2 separate regions of the Homo sapiens genome follow, and region 1 is linked to region 2. Evidence: fine-mapped expression QTL. A gene starts in region 2. The other region holds a variant in brackets. All regions are shown on one strand. Distances are from middle to middle.

The links. PIP is the estimated chance that this variant, and not a neighbour inherited with it, causes the effect.
Region 1: its variant is the best candidate, but not a certain one, in a credible set for the expression of MR1 in lung (TOPMed, PIP 0.58).

Annotation. Positions count from the first base shown.
Region 1 is chr1:181,081,034-181,083,952 of GRCh38, reverse strand. No RefSeq gene overlaps it. Among named protein-coding and RNA genes, the nearest start is that of IER5, 6.2 kb to the left of the region's middle. The variant C/T (reference allele first, on the strand shown) is at 1,230.
Region 2 is chr1:181,032,425-181,035,343 of GRCh38, reverse strand. It overlaps MR1 (major histocompatibility complex, class I-related), which reads right to left and starts at 1,361. Exons shown (of 6, transcript NM_001385161.1): 1 at 1,270-1,361. The coding sequence starts at 1,336. RefSeq lists enhancers at 1,452-1,561, 1,692-1,791, 1,992-2,181.

The sequences.
Region 1 (2,919 bases), 49 kb before region 2:
AGTGATACTCCTTTTTTTCTTCTGAGAACAGACAAATCCACTTTTTTTTTTTTTTTTTTTTTTTTTGAGACAGAATCTCACTCTGTTGCCCAGGCTGGAGTGCAGTGGTGTGATCATGGCTCACTGAAACTTCCGCCTCTCAGTCTTCCAAGTAGCTGGGACAACAGGCGCATGCCACCACAATGGCTAATTTTTGTATTTTTAGTAGAGATGGGGTTTCACCATGTTTGCTACGCTGGTCTCAAACTCCTGACCTCAATTGATCCACCTGCCTCGGCCTTCCAAAGTGCTGGGATTACAGGTATGAGCCACTGCACCTGGCCCAAATCCACTTTTTAATTTGTTCCTTTTTTCTCTCACTATTCTGGATATTGTACATCTTTTTTTTTTTTTCTCTTGGCTGCTTGATTTTCTTTTTCATTTTTCTTTTTTTTAATTTTAATTTTAATTTTTTTTTTTTGAGACAGAGCCCTGCTCCATCGCCCAGGCTGGAGTGCAGTGGCACAATCTCGGCTCACTGCAGCCTCCACCTCCCGGGTTCAAGCAATTCTCCTGCCTCAGCCTCCCGAGTAGCTGGGACTACAGGCGTGCGCCACCATGCCTGGCTAATTTTTGTATTTTTAGTAGAGACAGGGTTTCACCATGTTGGCCAGGATGGTCTTGATCTCTTGACCTTGTGATCCGCCCGCCTCAGCCTCCCAAAGTGCTGGGATTACAGGCGTGAGCCACCTTGCCTGGCCCTGGCTGCTTGATTTTCTATATAATTTTTAAATTTTCAAATGGTGTTTGACTAGGAATGCACATCAAAACCTGTCTTTTTCCCTTCTCTCCATTTTCATTCCTAAACTGCTTACAACCCTGCCCACCTTCTTGTACTAAATTTTGAATCTTTGTTCAGATAACCTTAAATTGTTTTTTGTTTTTTCTGTTTTTTGGTTTTTGTTTTGTTTTTGTTTTTGTTTTTTAGACAGAGTCTTGCTCTGTCACCCAGGCTGGAGTACAGTGGTGGGATCTCAGCTTACTGCAACCTCTGCGTCCTGGGTTCAAGAGATTCTTGTGTCTTAGCCTCCCTGGGATTACAGGCGTGCGCCACCACACCTGGTTAATTTTTTTGTATTTTTAGTAGAGATAGGGTTTCACCATGTTGGCCAAGCTGGTCTTGAATTCCCGACCTCAAGTGATCTGCCTGCCTTAGCCTCCCAAAATGCTAGGATTACAGGCGTGAGCCA[C/T]TGCACCGGCCACTAGAGAACCTTAAATTGTTTTTATGATCAACTTTTTCAGATTCTGTCTCCTTTAAGACTCCTAAGGAAAACAGATTCTTCAATAAGGGTAGAGCAATCAAACTCATTAAAATGAGCCTAGGATCCTATCAAGCTGCAGAATGAGAAAACACCACCATATAAAACCCTAGACCTGTGCTGTTCACTACATTGGCTACTAGCCACATGTGGCTAGTGAGCACATGAAATGTGTTAAGTACAACTGAGGAACTGCATTTTACGTTTTATGTAATTTTAATCCATTTAAATTTAAAAATTGAAGCAGAATACGTGTTCCCTGAAACCCAATCTTATTGTGTCATGTTTTTGAATTTTGAAAATCTAGCATCTCAGTTGATATGTGCTGTAACCGTAAAATACACAGCAGGTTTCAAAGACATAGGATGAAAAAGAGAATGTAAAATATCTCATTTGTATTTTTATAATGGCTATATGTTGAAATTATATAATTTAGATATATTGGGTTAAATAAAATAGATTATTAATATTAATTTAATCTGTTTATAAAATTTTACATATGTGGCTCAAATTATATTTCTATTGGACAATACTGCCCTGGGGACAATAAGGGGAGAGGGAGGTGTAGACATATAAATATGCATGAGCATATTGTGGGCAATTAACAAATGTCCTTGATTGGGGAAGAGGGAAAGGACAGAAAAGATAAATTTTAAAAGAAATGAAACATAAAACACTTAGATAGTTGTAGAGTTAAGGAGAAAATCAAAGAAAAATGTAAACAACAGAACTAATTGGCCAGAAGAAAGTTCTTTCTAAACAGACAACCACAAGTTCGAGGAGCACAGTTCTCCTTATTTGAATGCCATGACATAGAAATTATCACAATATTAGTTTTTAATTCAAAATATAAACATGAAAACTTAAATTTCAGAGGAGTATTTACATGGATAACATCAATCCCCTGGGTTGTTAGGGTGCATTTATTCCTTTCAATTCTGATGTCTTTCTAGAAGTTGCAGGACCATTTGTTTTTAATGTGCCATTTTCCTGCACAAAAACCCTCAGTGGCTTCCCATGACCTTTTATGGCAAAAATCCAATTCTCTGGCGTGGTCTCCAGAGTACTACACAATACATTGTCAAAGACAAACAACCGAGAGTGGTGCATAGAGCTGGGGCTCATTGGGTGTCCTGGCAGCTCTTACCAGCTGTGTGTCAGCAAATTTGAAGGTGGTCCTTTTCTCATAAAACTGGGGAGTTGGACTAAATCAGTAGACCTCAAACTAAGGCTGTACGTTAGAATCACCTGGGGAACTTTTAAACTTCCAGACACCCAGGCCTCACCCAGATCAGTTAAATCAGTCTCTGGGGTGAAACCCAGCACTGAAATTTTTAAAAGCTCCGTGAGTAATTACAACGTGCATCCACATTTGAGAACTGGTGTCCTAGCTGATTGTTTTAGAATCATTTTAGGTCCAAAATTCTATGATTCTATGAACCTAGGCTAATCTTTCCAACCTTTCTACTATCCTGAACAACATAAATGCCCTCTTTCTCAGCTAGACAGATCTAATCAAAAGTATATATCTTGGCCGAGTGCGGTGGCTCAGACCTGTAATCCCAGCACTTTGGGAGGCTGAGGCGGGTGGATCACCTGAGCTCAGGAGTTCGAGACCAGC
Region 2 (2,919 bases):
TTTTTTTGAGATGGAGTCTCACTCTGTCACCCAGGCTAGAGTGCAGTGGCATGATCTCGGCTCACTGCAACCTCCGCCTCCTGGGTTCAAGTGATTCTCCTGCCTCAGTCTCCCGAGTAGCTGGGATCACAGGTGCGCACTGTGCACAGCTAATTTTTTGTATTTTTAGTAGAGATGGGTGTGCCGAGCTAATTTTTTGTATTTTTAGTGAGATGGGGTTTCACTATGATGGCCAAGCTGGTTTCAAACTCCTGACCTCAAGCGATCCGTCTGCCTCGGCCTCTCAACGTGCTAGGATTACAGGTGTGAGCCACCACTCCCAGCCATATGATTTAAAATTTTTTTATTTGTATAAATTTATGATGTACACATGCAATTTTGTTATAGCATAGATTGTGTAGTGGTCAAGTTGGGGCTTTAAGGTATCCATCACCCAAGTAACACACATTGTACCCATTAAGTAATTTCTAATCATCCACCCCCCTCGCCCTTCCAAATCTCCATGGTCAGTCATTCCACTCTCTATGTGCATGGGTGATTTGAAAGAACTCCTTCCTCTCATGTTCATCAGTCACACCTATGGTGGTGGCCAAGTCTAAGTTCTGGACACTGCCCACCAGTACCAGTCCTCAGCCCAGGGAGCAAGTGATTAGGGCAGAGAAGCCTGGTGGTTCTAGCCCATGGGCCCTTTCCCCTATTTGAGGCAACAGAAGGCATTTGCTTCCCCAGTGACTTGAGCTCCCCGAATAATGAAAAACTCTCCCTTCTACTTGATTAATACTTCTCACAGTCAGTAAACAAACCCAGAGCCATGGTTTTATCTTTCTTGGATCTTTTATTACAGGTAGGGCTTGTGTTGAGGAAAAACATAAATAAACCTGAACAATGGATCTACTCCACTGTTAATGCCCCTGAAACTCTGACTACATCCTCATGAGACTCTGGAAGTTAGAAAAGAGGAGAAACAAAAGTAAAAGAAAAAATATGAGCAGAAAAGAAAGGAGGCCATGCTCAGAGGGAAAGTGAGGAAGTTCCAGAGTCTTTCTAGAACGGCTCCCCCTCCCTCAGAAGGTGGTGACATCAAAATCCTACAAATATGAACTGGGAAACTGTTCAGGCAATCCATTGCTCCTGGAGTCTGAGTGTAATACATACACGTTTCTGCCCCTGGCTTCTATATTTTTCACCACAAGTTTTAGGAAGAAAAGCTGTGCCTTCTAGGCTGCCTCGACTTTGGAGTTAGGAGAGAAGAGGACGTGGGATACTCACGGGAATCGCTGTGCTTCACCATTAACACAATGATGAGAGGTAACAGGAACGCCATCAGTTCCCCCATAGTCCTTCTCTTTCCGGGTTCTTTTAACCAAAAACTGACAGGTCCCTTCTGAGAACCTCTTGGTGACACACAAGGCCTTCTCCCAATAAGAACAGGGGAAGATATGCAGTGTCATCAGTTGCTAGGTTAAAAAAAAAAGATAAAATGAAAGCATGAACACCTTCTTCGGTAACTTTTAAGTCTTTGCTGGTTTCAGACACTGCTTGCTCCTTTTGGTGTATCTATCTTCACCCTATTCCCAATTTTTAAATATTTATGGAGCATAGTCATGTTCAAAGCACAGAGAAACAAAGATTAATCATATCTGGTCAATCAGGGAGCTCAAGCTGCTGCCTCTGCTTCCCTGGAGCTTAGAATTTTGCTTAAGGGTCAGTAAGAAAGAGTCACAGTTCCCACGGCTTGGAACTCCCTGCTCTGGCTCCCTATGATGCTGAAGTCTCTGTCTGAGATAGCAGGTGTCACTTAGATTGTCCCGTAATCTTCAACTTAGGTCTGTCCTCCCTGCTACTCTAGCACCCAGCACAATAAGCTCAAAACACTTACTGAATAAAAGAAGGCAAGAGAAAGGCCTACAGAAGATTCTGAGGGGCAGCCACTCAGCTTGCTCAATCAGCAATCCCCAAGATCAAGCTGTGGCTACACTGTCATAAGGAGCACATGACAAGCTGGAAAACAGCAGCTTAAGCTTGTCCAGGGAGCTAGGGAACAGGCCCAGACAGGAAAGAGGAAGTAGACATGAAGGGGAGAGGTGAATGGAGGCATGGCCATGAGGCAGGCAGGCTTGAGCTGGGTTCAGGGACCTGGGTTTGCCTCCCCACTATTTGACCATGGGCAGAATCCCAAATTGCACCAAGGCCTGATTTCTTCAACTTTAAAAGCAAATCCTGTCATATATTTCACAGAGTTGTTGAAGGATCAGAAGTTCTGTTTATGATGCATTTAGTAGGTAGTAGAACCTTATGTACCGGTTGTATGGTAGGTTGAGAATTGTCGCCCCAAAGATGTCCACAACCTAATTGCCAGAACCTGTGGATATATTACCTTAAATGGCAAAAACAAAATAAAACAAAACAAAACCCTTGGCAGATATGATTAAATTAAGGATCTTGAGACAGAGAGCTATCCTGGATTATCTGGTGGACCCAGTGTAATCAGAGGGGCCTTATTAGAGGGAGGCAAAAGGGTCAGAGTCAAGGAGATGTGACAATGGAAGCAAAGGTCAGAGTGATGATGCCATTGCTGAAAGAAGGACATGAGCCAAGGAACGCAGATGGCCTCTAGAACTAGAAAAGAGAAGGAACAGATTCTCCTTAGAGCCTCCAGAAGGAACACAACACTTTGATTTCAGCTGATAGGACACATTTTTGGACTTCTGTCCTCCAGAACTTTGAAAGAATAAATTTGCATTGTTCGAGGCCACTAAGTTGGTGGTAATTTGTTATAGCAGCAACAGGAAACTAATAGGTCTACCTTTACCCAGAATAAAATAAGAAGCCAAATAATGAAATTAACATTTGGCAATCTCTCAGCGGCCCCTGGCACCTTCTCTTCTCAGATCTTTGTATTTCTCTCTTCCTTTCCTT